Homo sapiens: one gene and its partners. The protein of the gene in region 2 purifies or fractionates together with the protein of the main gene of each other region. This does not show direct contact. Each region holds a gene or a part of one and is shown on either strand. Other genes may lie near its edges.

The links. The genes of interacting proteins can lie anywhere in the genome.
Region 1: the proteins of PROKR1 (region 2) and IPO13 purify together in Homo sapiens (affinity purification with mass spectrometry; one large-scale study listed by BioGRID and IntAct). This does not show direct contact.
Region 3: the proteins of PROKR1 (region 2) and TMEM201 purify together in Homo sapiens (affinity purification with mass spectrometry; one large-scale study listed by BioGRID and IntAct). This does not show direct contact.
Region 4: the proteins of PROKR1 (region 2) and TNFRSF10B purify together in Homo sapiens (affinity purification with mass spectrometry; one large-scale study listed by BioGRID and IntAct). This does not show direct contact.

Annotation. Positions count from the first base shown.
Region 1 is NC_000001.11:43,959,578-43,964,375, forward strand, and holds part of IPO13 (importin-13), read left to right. Parts: intron 1-671; coding exon 672-752; intron 753-1,298; coding exon 1,299-1,436; intron 1,437-1,588; coding exon 1,589-1,685; intron 1,686-4,691; coding exon 4,692-4,744; intron 4,745-4,798. UniProt on the Homo sapiens protein: Functions in nuclear protein import as nuclear transport receptor. Serves as receptor for nuclear localization signals (NLS) in cargo substrates.
Region 2 is NC_000002.12:68,645,909-68,650,706, reverse strand, and holds part of PROKR1 (prokineticin receptor 1), read right to left. Parts: coding exon 4,401-4,798; intron 1-4,400. UniProt on the Homo sapiens protein: Receptor for prokineticin 1. Exclusively coupled to the G(q) subclass of heteromeric G proteins. Activation leads to mobilization of calcium, stimulation of phosphoinositide turnover and activation of p44/p42 mitogen-activated protein kinase.
Region 3 is NC_000001.11:9,591,039-9,595,836, reverse strand, and holds part of TMEM201 (transmembrane protein 201), read right to left. Parts: intron 1-4,798. UniProt on the Homo sapiens protein: Critical regulator of angiogenesis and endothelial cell (EC) migration. Promotes the migration of endothelial cells, which is essential for angiogenesis.
Region 4 is NC_000008.11:23,058,606-23,063,403, forward strand, and holds part of TNFRSF10B (tumor necrosis factor receptor superfamily member 10B isoform 1 precursor), read right to left. Parts: intron 1-4,798. UniProt on the Homo sapiens protein: Receptor for the cytotoxic ligand TNFSF10/TRAIL. The adapter molecule FADD recruits caspase-8 to the activated receptor.

The DNA.
Region 1 (4,798 bases), on a different chromosome or scaffold from region 2:
TAAGGGACTGCTTTAGTCGTTGTTCCCAGAACTCCCTCCCAGATTTCTCCAGGAGAAAAGGAAGCCATAGGCATCCTGGCCTCTCTGCTTAACTCCCCAACCCAGTTTCAGTTAGCCTCTTGGCTTTAGACCACCCCTGGGCCACTGTCATCCCACAGAGCTGCTTCTTTACATGGTAGTCATCATCCTGCCTTTCCTCACCTCCCAGGACCTCAGTCTGCTCTCTGCTCCTCCATAAGCTGGGAGAGCAGCTTAAGCCTGCATCTGTGCATTCCTTGGGGCTCCCTACCTCAAGCCTATTTGGAGGAGATAGCATCTCCACTTCTTCAGAGGCTAGCCCATAGCCTTGGTTTTACAGAGCAGAGATAGGGAGAGATTTTTTTTTAAGTTTACAAAGTTTTTGTAACCTTATGAAGCACTTGTGATATCTCTGCTTTGCAGTTTGAGGCTTCCTTTGAGATGATCCCTAGAATTCAGGAAATACTCCTTTTTCATTCATGAGAGAGTTCAGCAAACCACTTCTTCCCCCAGGGGTCCCATGCCCTGGGTCCTCAATGTGTGTTCTGGGGTAATAGGTCTGAACTGCTCCCCTCCTCCCTGCCACCAAGTCCTCCTCAAGTGGGTCACAGTGATGGATAGCAGAAGCGCCTCACTTCTTCCTGTGCCTTCAGGTGGTGGTGGTGCTGCAGCAGGTCTTCCAGCTTATCCAGAAGGTGCTGAGCAAATGGTTGAATGATGCCCAGGTTGTGGAGGTGAGCCCTGACCCTTGCCCTCCGCTCCCATAGTGACTGCTCAGAGGTGTAGCAGGGTAAGATGTTACTGCCACACTTCAGCTTACAATGGTTTGGAGAAAACAAGGGAGGTGAATCCTGCCCCATAGAGATAAGGAATCTTTTGGGAAGACATTTAGAACTCCCCAATATCATGAGAAGTGCTTAACGTAAGGACTCTAATATTAGGGTCGAGTGACAGTCAGGCATCTGTTTTAGCACCAAAGACCTGCCTTTGGTCCCTTTTCAATTCAGGTTTTTGTTGCTGTTGCTGCTCCCTGAGAGGAAATGTTAGAGATGTAAGTCGCAGGAGTTAAGTTCCACAGTTACATCCTGTGCCCCTCAGTGAAGGGCCTTTGCCCCCTGCCTTTCAGGGTGAGGGTCAGACTTGCTTACCTTCCTTGGTTTGCAGGGCCAGGCAAGGCTTATAGGTAAGGGCCCAATCGTAGGCCCCCTCTGTGCAGGGCTTCAGCGCTGTTCCAGCCAGTCATGACCTGCTGACCAGGGCCCCTTTGCTTTCTTCCCAAGGCGGTGTGCGCTATCTTTGAGAAGTCTGTTAAGACGCTGCTGGATGACTTTGCCCCCATGGTGCCACAGCTGTGTGAGATGCTGGGTCGGATGTACAGCACCATCCCCCAGGCCTCTGCTCTTGACCTCACTCGACAGGTGGGCCTTCTGGTTGGGGCAGAGATCCTGACCCTGGGTGGGGGTGGGTCAGATGGCTGCCGTGGCTGGGGTCCCCACTTGCATTCCAGGGATATTGCCATGTCCTGGTGAGACTGGGTCTCAGCTGACCAGCATTCCCTGCTTTCTCGTAGCTGGTCCACATCTTTGCTCATGAGCCTGCCCACTTTCCCCCAATTGAGGCCCTCTTCCTGCTCGTCACCTCCGTCACACTCACTCTCTTCCAGCAAGGTAGGTCCTGACCGGGGTCTCTGCTGCTGCTGCCACTGCCACTGCCTCTGCTTCCCCAAATGGGGAGCCAAAGCTGCCCACTCTGTTCTTCTCTGTCCCCTGAGTCACACGTGGGACTTGATGGGAAACCTGTGAGATCAAGCACAACACCTTATAAATAGTTGAAACTTTAGGTTGAAGTGGATAAGAGGGTGAATGATGTCTTCTGCTGGCCTGCTGGGCTCAGGGCCAGTCTGGATATGGAAGAAGGAAGTGGGGGTGGGAGGTGGGCAGAGGCTCTGAGGGGCTTGGGGCACTAGGCTGGCTCCTTTACTTTGGGATATAATGAAAAGTGGAAAGAGCACGGGCTTTTGAAGTCAGCTAGACCTAGATTCTAAGTTCATCACCACCAACTAGTTGTGTGTCCTTGGGCAAGTCACTTACCTTTGCTGGGCCTTCATTTCCATATCTGTGAAACGGAGATAACATATACTTGAAATGATTGTTTACAGGTATTAAAGTCACATCTTCTGGGCCCTTGGCTCAGGGGCTTTTGCACAGTGAAGTACTCAGAGACTGTTGGTTCCTTTCCCTGCATCAAGGCTTAGTACTTTCTAGGCCAGAAGTCAAGTACCTTTGGCTGTGGTCCTAGCCCTCTACTCACTGTGGCCCTTTGCCTGAGAGAGTTGGCAGCAGGGGCTTCATTCAGGCTTCTCGTGTTGTCTAATCCAGGCTTCCAGTTTGGAGAAACAAAAACAAAAAAACAGCACTGCTCAGCTAGCCTCATGAGCCTTGCCTGGATTCATGGTCACAGGTTTGAGGCTCACCAGGGGTCTCGGTTGGTGCCCAGAGTACTCGCAGCTCATATCCTCAGTGCCTGGTCTCATGATCCTGGCCTCTGTTTCTGTGGGCCATGGAGTAGGTCCAAACTGGGGAGAAAACTGAACCAGAAACCTGGTGTGGTCATCCTCAACTCCACCTCTCCCAACTCCCTGTACCCAATCTGGGACAAGCCCCATTGATCCTGACTCCTGATTCTCTCTCGGTTGGTCCACTTCTACCCACCTCCGTGGCCACTGCCTCAGTTTAGGGTCTCACCTGGATTATCAGCAACCTTCTAGTGGGTTTTCTTGGCATCTCCCCTTCTCTCCAATCTGTTCTGCACACTGCAGCTATAATCTTCATAAAAACACAAATCTGAGCATTTGTCATCCCGGGCTTAAAACCCTTTCATTGTTCCCATTGCCCTCAGCTTATTGTTCCATTCCCACCCACATGACAAGGCTCTGGCATGCCTCTAATGTCCTCTCCTGCCAATGTCCTCATGACTCCAACATTTCAGCCACACTGCCTCTTCCTTACCGTGTCCCATTTGATCCCTGTGCCTTGCTCCTCTGACTGGAATGTCCTATGCCCTTTACTGGGTGAACTCTCACTCCTTCATGCCTTAGAAAGGAGGAAGACTGCATCACTTCTCAGAGTAATTTCTCTCTGAGGCAGAATTGGGTGCTTCTAACTGTACTGAAACTGCATCCCATACACACTGCTGACACAGCACTGATCACACACAATAATCAGCTTTCATGTCTGTCTCTCTTACTAGACTTAAGCCCCTCAAGGGTAGGGTTGAGTTTCTTCTCTCTGCATCCCCAGTGCCCAGAATGAGGCCAGAATACAGCAGGCCACAGACACTGTTAAATAAAGGAGGGGGAGGGCTCCCTGCCCTTGGAACCTTTCCTTCTCATTTTCTGGCCCACCTCTAGCAGGGTGGCTGCTGAATATCAAACCTGCATGGTGCACACTGGGCCTCACTTTCTAGGACTTAAATAACTCAGGGTTCAGATACCAAAGGGACAGACTTTATTGGTGACTCTTCATAGCCTAGAGAAGGAAGCAGGGCAGAGATTATCTGCTTTACAGATGGGGAAACTGAGCATTTGTGGCTTGCGCAAGATCACACAGCTACTTAGTGGTGTCTTAGGCAGATGGTTTTGTACCACATCCTCCTGAGAGTGGAGAAGCCTGGGTAGGAGCTCCAGGTGCATGCCATATTCTTGCCTCAGGAATGATCAGAACTGGAGGCAGCAGTGTCCAACATCATATACGTTGGGCTTGTTGGTTGTCTCGCTGGACAGGATGGCTCCCATACCTGTTATGCCATCCCAATCTTAGCCATTCCTTCCTCGGGCTCTGCCTTCCCACTGGACCATAGGATGACATGTTTCTTGTTTCCCTGTTTCTTGGCATGTCCAGATGATGGGAACTAGTCCTCAGCCCTGAGCTTGGCTCTCTGCAGAGTCCATGTCCATGTGGAGGAGGTTTGCTGGGGTGGGGCTCTTGTTTTTGGCCTTATGATACTGTTTCCTCCTCTGGGCCCTGCCAGTGACTTGCCAGGCCATCTCCAGAGCATGCTGGGCACTGCCCTACCTAAGCAAGAGTCCTGTGGTTTAAGTGGACTGAATAGATTATTTTCCTTTGCCAGACCAAGAGCCCTAAGGCCATTGAAGTGAGGTGGCACTTACTCAGGCTCTGATGCCCTGGCCTTTCTAGGGCCCTCAGATAAACCTCAAAAGGAGATACCAAGGACTGACTCCCCCACCCCCCCACCGCCATCCCAGCTTTCCTCTTCAATGACTGGCTGATGGGAGGTATGTGCTAGGAGCAGTGTAGGGCTACCCCAACCTGCCAGAGGCCACAGTAAGTGTGGTGGCCGTTTCTTCAGCTATATGGAGTCCAGAATTGCTCAAGTACCAAGGGAACATGAGGGGATGGCCTGAGGAGGAGTGGGGAGTAGGCGGAAGGCCCCTTGGAGGGAGCTGGGGCAGGCCCGTCCTTCACTTTGCCGTCTCTTTCTGTTGGGCTTCTCCCAGTTCATGGTTTTTGTATGTTTTGTTTCTTTATCTTGCTTCCTGCTGCTCATGTGCCCCCACGCTGTCTCCCTGCAGGCTCTCAGTCCCACATAACTATATGAGGTTGAGTTGCTGTTTGTATAATTTTTTCTTAAGTTCCATCTTTATTATATTTTAGGGCCCAGGGATCATCCTGATATTGTTGATTCATTTATGCAACTCCTGGCACAGGTGTGTTTTAGTTTTATTCATTCACGTTCTGTTCTCTCTCTTTCTCTTTCTCTT
Region 2 (4,798 bases):
CTGGTCCCACCCTACCCCCAACTCTAGATGGTCAGCCCCCCAAGAGCTGTGATTATGTCTTACTTCTTTTATAACCTTTTACTCTCTGTGAATTCTGAGTACCTAACAGGATTTTGGTGCAACTTCACCCTCATTGAGTGCCTAGCGCTGGGTGAATAGACATGTAAAAAGCTGGCTGGACACAGTGGCTCACACCTGTAATCCCAACACTTTGGGAGGTCGGGGCACAATAATTACTTGAGACTAGTTCAAGACTAGCCTGGGCAGCATAGCAAGATCTCATCTCTAAAAAAATTTATTTTTAATATATAAAAAGCCATGGGGACAGTTCTCAGAAAGATTGCAACTATTTTTGGGAAAACAGGACATAAATATGTTTAACCATGAGACTGGGAAGCAGTCTGGGGCTAGATAATAAAAGTTTGGAAGAACAGGTGAAAGAGTTTGAGCCATACTTTGTAGACAATGGAGTTATTAGAGGTCTTTTTTTTTTATACTTTAAGTTTTAGGGTACATGTGCACATTGTGCAGGTTAGTTACATATGTATACATGTGCCATGCTGGTGCACTGCACCCACTAACTCGTCATCTAGCATTAGGTATATCTCCCAATGCTATCCCTCCCCCCTCCCCCCACCCCACAACAGTCCCCAGAGTGTGATATTCCCCTTCCTGTGTCCATGTGATCTCATTGTTCAATTCCCACCTATGAGTGAGAATATGCGGTGTTTGGTTTTTTGTTTTTAAGCAGGAGAGTGGAGACACGTACAAGACAGAAGATTAATTTGGCTGCAGCCTTGCTTACTTCCCTCGGGCCACATGGAGGCTTCTCTCTGTTCCTCTGTTTGTAGAACCCATCTGGTTTGTTCCTGCCTCTGGGCCTTTTCACTTACAATCCCCCTTGTCTGGGATGCTTGCTCCCTGTCTTCCCAAGGCAGGCTCTTTCCCCCTGTGTCATTCAGAAGCCAGTTCAAAGGCCTCTCCTCGGAGACCCTTCTCTTGACTACTCACCTAGAATAGGTCCCACCCTCAGCCACCCTCGACATTTTACCTGTGTACTTCTTTTGTTCAGAGTATTTCTTGCTTCTGAAATTACCTTCCTTTTGTGTTTGCCTGACTGGATCTCTCTCCATCCTTTGGTTATAAGCTCCAGGAAAGCAAGGAGTTTTTTTTGTCTTATTCACTGTCGTATCTCCAGTGCTTGCAATAGCATCTGTCACATCACAGTTACTCTATAAAAATGGATTGTTTAAATGAATGAATGAATGAAAGTTTAGGATGGATTGTCAGGGGAGTAGCGTTGACAGATGGGCAGATCCAAGAAACACTGAAGGCAGGAAGACCAAGAGGAGACTAGGATACCAGCCCTGAATGAACAAACGGGTATTGCCAAGACCTGGAGGTTGAATGAATGCTGGTAAAGAAGGGAGAGCAGCCAGGACAAAGGAGACTTTCTTCTAGGTTAGATGCCTCGGAGAACAATGGAACCAATAATATAGACAAATACAAGCAGGTAGATGATAAATAGTTCTGTTCTGGCATTTTGTAAAAATCTTGTATTTTTTTTAAATCACATCATAAAAACAATAATTTCAATGAAAGCAAAAAGGTTAGTGTGTCAGAAATGTTCATTAGTTTACCTGCTTTTTTGTTGTAGACATTCCTATAAGGGTTAATTTAAGAATTATCATATCCACTGTTTATTTATTGCTTACTGTTTTGAATATTGTTCTAAGAAATTAAATATATTTATTTCATTCAATCCTCAAAGCAACCCAATACAATAGGCTTTCTTTTTATCCTCATTTTGTAGGCGAGAAAACTGAGGCAGAGAGAGGTCAAATAACTAACATAATACCCAACACACAATACAGCTGGTACTTAAACCCAGGCAGAATAACTGCCAACATGGCTACAGAAATTTCATTAAGCAAAAATAAAGACATTTTTACAACTAAGTAGATCTGTTATAAACCAAGATAAAAATTAGTTGCTCCCAACTGATCAAATCCTGAACAACACGTGAGACCAGAGAAAAATTAATGATTCCTAGACCACAATTAGATGGTAACAACACATACAAATAAAAATAATTGCAGCAAAGATCACAAACATCAATAAAAGAATGGGCATTGGTGCAGCCATTCATCCACCAAGACCATTGGGCAGCCCTGTGAAGGCACATGGTGCTTTCCTTGAGGTCTGGGTACAAGCTTCCTATCATAACCCCACTCAACCATAGAAGCTCCCACGGTGCAAAGCATTTTTTCTAATTCATCTTTCTTATTGTATCTAATTTCCTTTGTGTAAACTCACACTGCAAGAGAAATGCTTGCAGTATTTCAGACAAGCTCTGTTTGGTATGAAAGGAGGTTATAAGCTTGAAGAAGTTCAGTAGATGGAGACTGACTGATTGACATAGATATCACTCTTACATGTTCCAAATAACCCAATGCCCCTTAGTGTATCCTGGCTTCCTTTCCCCTTGAAGCTACTTCCTCCTACCATTGTTACTCCGTTCAAGTGGTAAAATGGATCTCATCCGGGGAGTAGGGTCCCACTCCACAGGAGGCACCCTACCCTGCTTTTAGTAGCTGAGCACATGTAGTTTCTCGCTAGTATGAAACTTCAGGAAATGACTCTGTATGCTTTGTCCTGTTCATGGGCTAAGAGAGAAGGTGGCGGCTTCTACTTTCAAAAAAGTTCAGAGACAAAGTCCCTGGAGCTCTTCCTTGGCAGCTTTGAAAGGAACCTACGAAGTAGATACTCTACTTGACTGCTCCCCTCCTGCTCCTTCAGTGGGTTCATGCGGGGTCCTTGTCCAGGTAAATGAAAAGCTGCAGGGCTCTTTGATTCAGTGGAGGGAATTTGGCCTCCAGGTAAATGAAAAGCTGCAGGGCTCTGTGATTCAGTGGAGGGAATTTGGCCAAGAAGAAGTAGCACTCTGCAAGGATCTACGGGGACAGACCAAGGGCTATGTAAGCTGCTAACTTCCTGATGTCCTTCCCTAGAGAAGGGAGGCAGAGTTTCCACCCCTCAGCGGTTTTATAGACAGAGGTTCCTTGGTAACCCCCTTTTTTCAGGTTATCCTTTTCGGTCATCCCACCCCTGGTCGCCCTGCCTACGGTCTCAGAAAACAAGCTCTCTTAGCTGTGCTCCTCCCTAGAACACTGTCCTGACTGTGAGGGCCAGGTCAAACCCCCTCAGATCCTTGAGGCCAGAGAACAGGGAGAGCATGTATGCCTCAGGCTCTCTGGGTTAAAGGAGAGAGACAGGCTGTTCAGATCCAAGTACACAGAAGCCTGATTTGATCCTCAGGATAATTGTCTCTAGACTGTAACCAGGTGCTTTGTAATGACAGTCCAGCTGTGGGCAGAGGAGCTAGCAAAGATTGTCCCCCGAGGAACAAAGACCAGCCTGGCCCATTAGCACAAGTTTACACTAAAGGAAGAGACTAAGTTGAAGAAAGATATGCAGAGGCTGCTCTTACTGATTTTATTTGCGATCACCAGAAACAGGTCTTCTGCACTATCTGTGCAAATGGACTAAAAGGTGCAAAGTGATTAATGCAACAACAAAAAGTAAATAAACATATGTTCCCTTTTTTTTCAAAACAAATCCCTCAATCTTTTTATTTTTATTTATTTATTTATTTTTTAGAGACAAGGTCTCCCTCTGTCACCCAGGCTGGAGCACAGTGGCATGAACATAGCTCACTGCAGCCTGGAATTCCTGGGCTCAAGTGATCCTCCTGCCTCAGCCTCTCAACTAGCTAGGACTACAGGCACACACCACCACGCTCAGCTAATTTTTTAATTTTTTCAAAAGGTGAGGTCTGGATATGTTGCCCATGCTGGTCTCGAACTCCTGGCCTCAAATGCTCCTCCTATCTCGGCCTCCCAAATTGCTGGGATTATAGGCTTGAACTGTTTACCACAGCCAGTCATAAATCCTTGAATCTTATTTAAAAACAGATGATGCTAGAAGGTCATATTTTAGTAGAGGAAGTCTTGATGAGATAGAAACCTCCTTCAAGATTTCCACATTGACTCAAGAGGTAACTGCCTGACGCTTAAAGTTTCCCTCGATATCTCCTCTTACCTGTCTACTCTAGACCTTGAAAGGTGTAATATCTAGGAAAACATCCATAGCAAGGGAGATCAAAAGCTTCCCATCACCCAACTCTAGAGGGCTCTGCTGTCTTCTGTCTGAACAAAGCTGGAAAAGGAGAACTCTTCTCACTGTCAGTCAATGGGCAAGCTTTTGAGTCCCCCATGCAACCACATCTAGGGGGAATAGAGACACCTCTCATCAATCTGCAACTGCAGTACAGGAGGGGGCAATTCCAATGCCCCTTCCTCCCTGACCGCCTTTGTTGTCCCCACTGCTGCTGCACTCACCTGTCAATGGCGATGGCCAGCAGGGCATTGGTGGAGACATAGAGAGAGACAGTGCGCAGGTAGTTGACAGAGGTGCACAGGACGTGGCCGTGCTCCCAGGAGAGCTGGCGCACCACATAGTAGTCCATCTCAAAGGGGCAGCAGACAATGGCCACCAGGAAGTCAGAGATGGCCAGGTTGGCGATGAGCAGGTTGGTGAGGTTGCGCAGTTTCTTGTAGCGGACCAGGGCAGCGATAAAGATGAAGTTTCCAATGCCGCAGACCAGCATGATGCCCACCAGGGCCATCCCAATGACAATCTTGGCAGCAAAGAACGTCCTGGAATTGGTCACATCCTCATCTTCATCCAAAGGCATATCATAGTCGCTGTAGCTGAAGTTGAATGGGAAGGAAGTGGC
Region 3 (4,798 bases), on a different chromosome or scaffold from region 2:
GAGGGACCTCCATGCCCTGCCCCAGGGCCACCAGGGAAAGGGTGCTGGGAGTGGGATCTGGGATCTGGGGATGCAAAGCTGGAGATGCTGGCCCCAGAACAGCAGGAGGAACAAGGGCTCTGAAGGAGAGGAACGCAGACTAGGTACGGCTGCATCCACCCAGGACCAGACAGGGAGGCCACGGCCAACCTGGGCTTCTCAGTCTTCAAGGGGAGGAGGCCAGCTGGAGCCTCAGCAGATCCCTAGGCTCCAGTGCGGCCGCACGGGGACCCAGGGCCACCTGCTCCTGGTGGCCTGGGGCTCACACATGGAGCACAACAGGGGCCAGGGCTGGCCAAACCAGGGCTGACTGGGACCAGGTTCGAGGACCACCCCTCCCCCACGAGGTCCTTGATCCTGGGCTGCAGAAAGGGTGCGCCCCAGGGAGCCTCCAGATTGAAAGGGGCCTCCTGTGCTCCAGAGAGAGACAGTCCCAGGATGTGAGAGCCAAGGAGGCTGAGGGGAGGGAGCAAGTGACAGCTGCCCAGCCTGGGGCCAACCCTCTCTGGTGGAGAGGACAGTGGCCCTCGCTGGCTACACGTGTGGTGACAGGTGGGGCCTCGGGATAATCCCAGCCCAGACACTGGGGGATCTATGCTCTGGGCCCCCCTCTACCCACCTCATTGGTTGTGGGACACTGGGGGACTGGGGAGGGGTGGGCAGAGAGACCGCCACTGCCCAAAAAAGCCCCCCAGTTCCGGAAATCCAGGAACAATGTGGGTGACAGGCAGCAGCTGTGGGAGCCCTGGGGCCCCGGCTTTGCTGCTCCGACTCTCCACCTCTCCCCCAGGGGCCACCTCCAGCTCGAGGACACCGCTTGAGCCCCTGCCAGAGTGGGCAGCCACTCCCTGCACAGACGGCCCCCCGTCCACAGGACCAGAGAGCACGGCCCTCTGGCCTTTCATCCTGAGGCGCTGCTCAGAGAAAGGAGGACGGAGCCCCAGGAAGTTCCTGTACTCTCAGCCTCAGTGTCCACATCTGTGAAGTGGGGGCAACCACAGCACCCCCGGCTTCTGCATGCTGCAAGGACGCAGTGACACAAGACAGAAAGGTGCTGTGCTCTGCAAAGAGCCAGCTCTGTCGCTAACCCATCGGGCTGGCCAGGGGCCTGAGGGGGAGGCTGGGCCCTGGGAAGCAGGGCTCCCGCTTCTGACACTACTGCTGCTGCCCGGCCCTCCCCTCCACCCCCTTCTCCTGACCAGGGGCATATGAAGGGAGATGTGTGATCACCTGTCAGCTGGGGACAAAAGCACCTCCCTCACAAGGGACTGCTCGTGGGACGCACTTAACAGTGACTGGCCTAGAGTATGTACGCAAAAAAGCCAAGTTACATGGAGTGGGGGGAGGCTTGGGAGAGAAGGGGAGATGGGACCAGGCCCTGCGGGGAAGGCCCAGGGCCCACAGGGGCAGCTGGGATCTCCCCCAGCAGCCTCGGCCCACACCCTTCTCACCCCACACCCCCTGCCCCAGCACAGGCCCAAGCCCTCACAGAGGACAAGGACCGCTGCATCTTGTCAACAGCATGGAGACAGCGGGCAAGGCCTGCAGACCAGCGACGAAACGGAGCCAGCCAGCTGGGCAGGCAGTATGGCAACAGGCATGGCCTTGGAGAGCAGCTCTGCCTTCTAGGGCCGCAGTCTCATCCCTCACCTGTCAAAAGGGGCTGCTGAGCATCCCTGCCCCAGGAGAGGCCACTGTGAGGATCCTACAGGAGAATGCAGGGAGGCGCTCAGTGCTCGGCATTAGGACAGCGCCACCGGGCGCCGACTACATGAACAGCCAGGGAAGGAGACTCGCTCTGGGGCATGTGGAGACCTGCTCTGCTGCGGTGCCCGCATCTAGCACTCCCGGGCAACTAAGCACGTGGACTTCCCTGTGCTAATTACTAGCTGTTGTACAGGCTTCTTTGTAACTGTGCATGGGGGCGTGTCCTGATGGGTGAAGACCTGCTTGTGTGACCCCCCACCCCTGAGCCGGACAAGGCTCTGCACCCAACTGACTTTGGGTGACAGGCTTCCTATCCCCACGGAAGGCCCCTCAGCTCTCTTACCCTGTTTGAAAAGGAAGGTCAACCCTTGAGCCTGCCTAGGGGACCAATGACAGCTGAGCAGGGGCTGTGGCTTCTGTCCAGGGTGCCTGCCATGAAGCCCCGCCCACCCCAGGAAGTCATGTTTCCATTCTGAATCTCCTGCTCTGTTGCTAGGGAAATGGCTCCACTGATCTAGAATGAGGCGGCCCGGAAGAGGGGGGAGGCAAGGGATTAGCCCTTGTCCCTGGGGCCAGCAGCTCTAACTCCTGTCACTCTCAGCCCTGGGTAATCCCTGCTAGAGTTGGGGGTGGGCTCTCTGGTGGCCAGAGCAGCTGCCACCCACTTTGGCCAGGCGGGCCCTACCTGCCAGGGGGTCCTCTCCCACAGTGCCTTTGGGGGTGAGCCCTGAAAGGTCCCAAGAGGCAGGTAGGCCAGGGGTCGATGGGGAGCTGGGCATGAATTGCAGGTCCCCCAGGCACCAGCACGGCGGCGTCAGACACATGACCACATGTGAAACACTGTCCACAGCTCGGACGAGGTCCCCACGCAGGTGGGGGAAGTCCTGGCCCCTAGCCTATGCTTGCCTCTGCCCGGCCTGTTGAGGCAGCATCTGGGTCAATCTCTTCTGAGCCAGCCTAGGCTGGACCCTGTTTTTGCTCTGGGAGAAGCCCCCAAGTTTCCCTGATAAACCCCTCAGCCCACTTCTCTTCTGCAAGCCAACAACCTCCGTCCTTAACTTGACTCTGGGACAAACCACAGTTGGTGGGCAAGGTTTGAGGTAACGTGACAGAATGTCCCTGCAACACAAGCAAGAGAGGAGCTCGGGCCTGGAGGGGCTGCCCCTGCCCACAACGGTTCCAGCTCTGGGGGGACAGCAGCTGGCCCTATGGGTCCCATTTGATGGGTGGACACGAGGGCCTGGAGGCCACTATCTCGGCTCCTGCTAGCTCGATGCCGAGCCCCTGGGAAGCCTGAGGAAGCCCGGAGGGAGATGGGTCCCTAAGAAAAAGCTAGGGCAGCTGCATGCTCTGTACCTGCCCCGTCCACAAGCCCAACATACACACTGAGGGAAAACAAGACGGGCACGTGTCCTTAATGATGACACCACTCCAGAGCCCTGAGCACGGACATGTATTGAAACAAAGCTCCTGCGGGATGCCTCACTATTCCCTGCAGGTGGGAGGGGCTCTGTTCTAGGTGCGAGCCCAGCGCTGGGTCCTCAGCCTAGGAAAGCACCAGGTAGGGGGAACCTGCTAGAGGGGGCACTGGATGGGGCTTGGTCCCTGCCCTGGGGAGCTCAGTGGTTGTAGCAGGCTGGCCAGCTCCCAGAGTCTCTGCCCAGCCCTGGGAAATCATCACCTCCTCAGACAGGGGCCTTAGCACATTGCTCAGGACCTGGGACACTGTGTGCTGGCCCCAGTGCGGGGTTGGAAAGACTGTAAGAGTCAGGTTCCCTCAGGGGCCAGGGAGCCAGAGGCCAGCCTCCCAAGCAGCTCCTCACCTGCACTTCCCGCTTAAGTGGGCAACACCGTGTTTCATTCAACCAGAAGGACCAGAGAAGAGGCCTCCTGGGCTTCAGCGACAGAAGCATCAAAATGCAACTCAGAACTTAGCACTGCCAGGGCCTCCAGCCCATCTCCAAGCAAAACATACTTGAATCCACAGCAGCAACTCCAACATCAGGATGGAAAACGCCCCAATCCACCATTCTAGGGTCGCTCCTGGTGCGAGCGGAACATCCCATCAGTTAAGCAAGCACCACCCTAGGCTGGCAGAGATGCAAACGTGAGCAAGACAAGAACGACGACCTCCCAGGGCAGCTGGTGACAGATACCACAGGACAGAGGCCAATAAGCGGGGCATCTGCGGTCGCCCTGAAGCACAGCTGTGCTCACCAGCAGGGCAGACGGCAGAGGGAGGGGACCACCCAACGTATGCCCGGGGTGCGGCGGTTGCTCAGGGAGAGTGCGCAGCAGCAGGAGAGTGAGTGGGAGGGGGGAGCCTGGAAACGGGAAGGGCCGTTACAGGGGACTCTGACTTCCAGAATGAGGCTCTGCTGCATATCCTCTGGGAGGCTGCATCCTCTTTGTCCCCAAACACTAGAAAGGAGACAATCCCAGTAAACACCAACAAAGCCCCGGAGGCGGGGCGGTGGTGTGTGCAGGGATGTGCTGGCAGAGCACGGATCCTGGGCATCGTTTGAAGAGGGCTGAGGACAGGCACCCGAGCAGCAGCGTCCAGGGGACAGGGAGGCCTAGGAAGCCACAGACTTCACGACGGCCTGGACACAGGGAAGTGAAACTGGGGCATCTGCCCCCCAACTGTGCCGACCGTGGTGGCTTCCCATAGGTGCAGAGAAGCAGCCAAGGGGCTCCATGAGCACCCAGAGGTTGAAGCTGGGCTGACAAGCTGAAGTTCTGGTGCGAGGCAGGGCCCTGCCATTTAACAGCCGGGTGATGTGGGGCAGGTAGCCCAACCTCCCCAAGCTTTGGTTTCCTCATCTGTAAAATGGGAGAACAGTAGAGCCCGCCCTGGCAGTTTCATGAGGAGACAGTGTGCTGTGCTTACAGCCATCAGCTGCTCCCATCAGTAACAACCATGGAAGCGAGAGGACTCCATGCGTGGGGAAGCCAGGGCGGGCCCTGACTGAGGCTGTGGGAGGACTCAGTCCTTCAGAGAAGCAGCCTCCTTCCCATGCGCCTCAGCCAGTCCTAAAGCACAAGGTGGGGC
Region 4 (4,798 bases), on a different chromosome or scaffold from region 2:
TTCCCGAGTAGCTGGGACTACAGGCATGCATCACAATGCCCAGCTAATTTTGTATTATTAGTAGAGATGGGGTTTCTCCGTGTTGGTTAGGGTGATCTTGAACTCCCAATCTCAGGTGATCTGCTCGCTTCACCCTCCCAAAGTGCTGGGATTACAGGTGTGAGCCGCCGTGCCCAGCTTGTGCATTGGCTTTTTAAATCAACAATATTTCCATTTTATGTGTAATTGTTATAGTGACTAAAATAAATGCTGTTTTTTTAAATCTAAAACTAAGGTAAATTATATATAACATGAAACTTATCTTTTAATCTTTTAAAATACATAGTTCAGTGACACTACATTTATTAATGTTGTTGTGCAATAATCACAACTATCCATCCTCAGAAGTTATTTCATCTTCCCATTCTTCCCTCCTTACAACCGCTGGCATCCAACATTCTACTGTTGGTTTTTATGAATTTGACTACATTAGGTACCTCAAGTGGAATCCTATTTCATTTGTCCTTTTATGAATGGCATTTTACTGAGCATGTCTTTAATGTTCATCCATTGTGTAGCATGTGCCAGTATTTCCTTCCTTTTCAAGGCTGAGTAATACTCCATTGTATGAATATACCACATTATCTATTGATCTGTCCAACTTGAGTTTCTTCCACTTTTTGGCTATTGTGAATAATACTGCTATAAACGTGGGTGTACAAATATCTGTTTGAAACCATGCTTTCAATTCTTTTGGACGTATACCTAGAAGTGGGAATGATGGATCATCTGCTAATCCTGTTTTTACTTTTGAGGAACTATCATACTGTTTTCCATAGTGGCTGCACCATTTTACATTCCCATTAACAGGGCACGAGGGTTCCAACTTCTCTACAAATTTGCTAATGCTTATTGTGTGTGTGTGTTGTTTTTGTTTTTTGAGACAGAGTCTCGTTCTGTCGCCCAGGCTGGAGTGCAGTGGTGCCATCTCAGCTCACTGCAAGCTCCGCCTCCTGGGTTCACGCCATTCTCCTGCCTCATCCTCCCAAGTAGCTGGGACTACAGGCGCCTGCCACCACGCCGGGCTAATTTTTTTGTATTTTTTTTTTAGTGGAGACGGGGTCTCACCATGTTAGCCAGGATGGTCTCAATCTCCTGACCTCGTGATCCGCCTGCCTTGGCCTCCCAAAGTGTGGGGATTACAGGCATGAGCCACCGCACCCGGCCTGTGTGTGTTTTTTATAATAGTCATCCTGATGGGTATAGGATGGTATCTCTGTCGTTTTGACCAGCAGTTCCCTAATGATTAGTGATTAAAGTATCTTTTCATATACTTATTGACCATTTGTATATTTGCTTTGGAGAAATGTTTATAAAAATCAGTTGCCCATTTTTAACTGGGTTGTTTTTGTTTTGTTAGATCGTAGGAATTCTTTATATATTTTAGATATTAAGCCCTTATCAGATATATAACTTAAAATATTTTCTCTCATTCTGTGGGTTTTGCCTTTTTATCCAGTTAATAGTATCTTTTGATTCACAAGAGTTACTGATTTTCAAGAAGTCCAAAATGTTTATTTTTTCTTTTGTTGCCTATGTCCATGGTGTCACATCCAAGAAATTATTGCCAAATCCAATGTCACAGAATTTTTATCCTATATTTTCTTTCAAGAGTTCTATAGCTTTAGCACTTACATTTACATCTTTTATTTGTTTTTAGCTATTTTTTAAATACAATGTTAGGCTAAGGTTCACTTCATTCTTTTGAATGTGGATATCCGGTTCTCCTAGCCCCCTTCATTGAAAAGACGGCCCTTTCCTCCATTCAACAGTCTTGGCATCCTTGTGAAAAATAATTTGGCCATATATGTGAGTGTTTATTTCTGGCTCCTCTATTCTATTCCACTGATCGATTTATCTGCTTTTATGTCAGTACCATCCTGTTTTGATTACTGCAGCTTTGTAGGAAGTTTTGAAAATCAGGAAGTGTGAATCCTACTACATTTTTATTCATTTTCAAGATTGTTTTGGATATTCTGGTCCCTAGAAATTCCATATGAATTTTAGGATACATTTTTTCATTTCTGCAAAAATGTCCTTGGGATTTTGATAGAGATTACATTGAATGTATAGATCACTTTAGGAAATGTTGACATAATTAGTCTTATAATTCATAATCATGGCATATCTTTCCATTTATTTTTGTATTCTTTAATTACTTTCAGTAATGTTTTATAGTTTTCATTGTACTAGTCTTCCACCTCCTTGGTGAGTTTACTCCTATTTTATTATTTTTGATACTATTGTAAATGGATTTTTTCCTAATTTCTTTTTTTGAATTGTTCATTGGTAGTGTATAGAAATGCAATTGACTTTTCCAGTTGATTTTGTATTCCGCTTCTTTGATGAATTCATTTTAGTACTACTAAATAAAAATTAAAAACACAGTTTAGATATACCCCACGGCAATTACCCATAACCATGTAGCCAAAACTTAAGACATCCTGATATCCCTGAAACATTAGCTATAATCATAAAAAATCCCACAAAATATAAGTTTTACACCTTCATCATGACATAATATGGTTCAGTGAAGTTAAATCAAGCAGCTATAGAAAAATCAGCTTAAACAGCTCTGATTGCCTTTAAAAAGAATATAAATTTATAAGTCAATCATGAAATTGTCAAAATACATCCTCCTTTATAGCCTGTACTATACCTGCTGTAAGGCAAGTTTCTTACCACTTGGTTTGAAATCTCCCAGATTGCAATCTGTACTGTCTTTTACTGAACAACAATAAATTTCAAAATTTTAAAAATTTAATATTATTTTATTTTTGGCAGTTTAATTTTTTGTGAAATCTTTTGGATTTTTTACCAGTAAGATCATATCATCTGAAAACACAGATTATTTTACTTTTTCCTTTACAGTCCAGATGCTCTTATTTCTTTTTCTTGCCTGTTTTGGCTAGAACTTCCAGTACTATGCTGAGTGGCAAAGGTGGGTAGATATCCTTATGTTGTTCTTAATCTTAAAGGAAAAGCTTTCCGTCTTTCAACACTGAGTATGATGTTAGCTGTGGGGTTTTCTTACATGGCTTTTATGATGTTGTGGAAGTTTTCTTCTATTCTTAGTTTGCTGGGTGTTTTCATCATGAAAGGGCTTTGAATTTTATCAGAGGCTTTCCCTGTATCAACTCAGATGATCATGTGTCTTTTTCCCCCTTCATTCTATTAATGCAATGTATTACATTGTTCAGTTTTCATTTGTTCAAACATTCTTGCATTCCGGAAATAAATCCAACTTGGTCATGGTGTATAATCCATCTAAGGTACTGTTGAATTCTCTCTGATAGTATTTTGTTGAAGATTTTTGCATCAGTTAGGGATACTGGGATATAGCTTTATTTTCTTGTAATATCTTTATCTGCTTGGGTATCAGAGCAATGCTGGCCTTACAGAAAGAGTCAAGAAAGGTTCCCTTCTCTTCAAGTTTTTGAAAGAGTTTGAGAAGTAGTGGTATTAGCTCTTCATTAAAAGCTTGTTAGAATTCACTAGTGAATTCTGTCAGTTTAATTAATAGTATTGAAGAATCAATGTTGGTTTTGTGGATTTTCTCTATGGTTTTTCTTTTTTCTTTTTCTTTCTTTCTTTGAGACAGAGTCTCACTCTGTTGCCCAGGCTGGAGTGCAGTGATGTGATCTTGGCTCACTGCAACCTACATCTCCGGGGCTCAAGTGATCCTCCCACCTCAGCCTCCCGAGTAACTGGGATCACAGGTGTGCTCCCCCGGGCCAGGCTGCTTTTTATATTTTTTGTAGAGACAGGGTTTTGCCATATCCAGGCTGGTCTCAAACTCCTGGCTTCAAGCAATCCTCCTGTCTTGGCCTCGCAAAGTGCTGGGATTATAGGCGTGAGCCATCACATCCGGCCTCTACTGTTTTTCTATTCTCTGTTTTATTTATTTCTCTTCTAATAATTATTTCCTTTATAATGCTAACTCTAGGTTTGGTTCATTCTTTTTCTAATTCCTACATTTGTAAACTTAGCTCGTTGATTTAAGATCCTTCTTCTTTTTTAATTAAACCATTTCTGGCTATAAATATCATAGATGGAATCAGATACTATATATGCTTTTCTGTCTGGTTTCTTTAACTCAGCATAATTATTTTGAAATTCGGTCATATTTTCATATGCATCAGTACTCCATTCCTTTTCATTACTGAGTTGTATGGCAGAATTAATATGGTAATATTATAAAATGTAGGAGACTTGAAATAATACAGATTGATTCATCTCCACTACTCATTCTTTCTGCTATAGTTGTCTCAGGCATGTTCATATGTTACAAACCCTACAAAGTGTTATATTACTTGATAGTGAATATTTTCAAGAAATTAAGAGGAAATAATCATTCTTTATATGTGCATTCATATTTCTATTCCTGATGATCTTCCTTCTTTCCTTAAGATCCATGTTCCCAGCCAGGCAAGGTGGCTCATGCCTGTAATCCCAGCACTTTGGGAGGCCAAGGCGGTGGATCTCCTGAGGTCAGTAGTTTGAGACTGGCCTGGCCAACATGGTGAAACCCGGTCTCTACTAAAAATACAAAAATTAGCTGGGTGTGGTGGCAAGCGCCTGTAATCCCAGCTGTTCAGGAGGCTGAGGCAGGAGAATCGCTTGAACCCAGGAGGCAGAGGTTGCAGTGAGCCGAGATTGCGCCATTGCACTCCAGCCTGGGCAGCAACAGTGAAACTGTCTCAAAAAAAAAAAAAAAAATCCATGTTTCCATTTCATTTCATCTCTATTCAGATTGAAA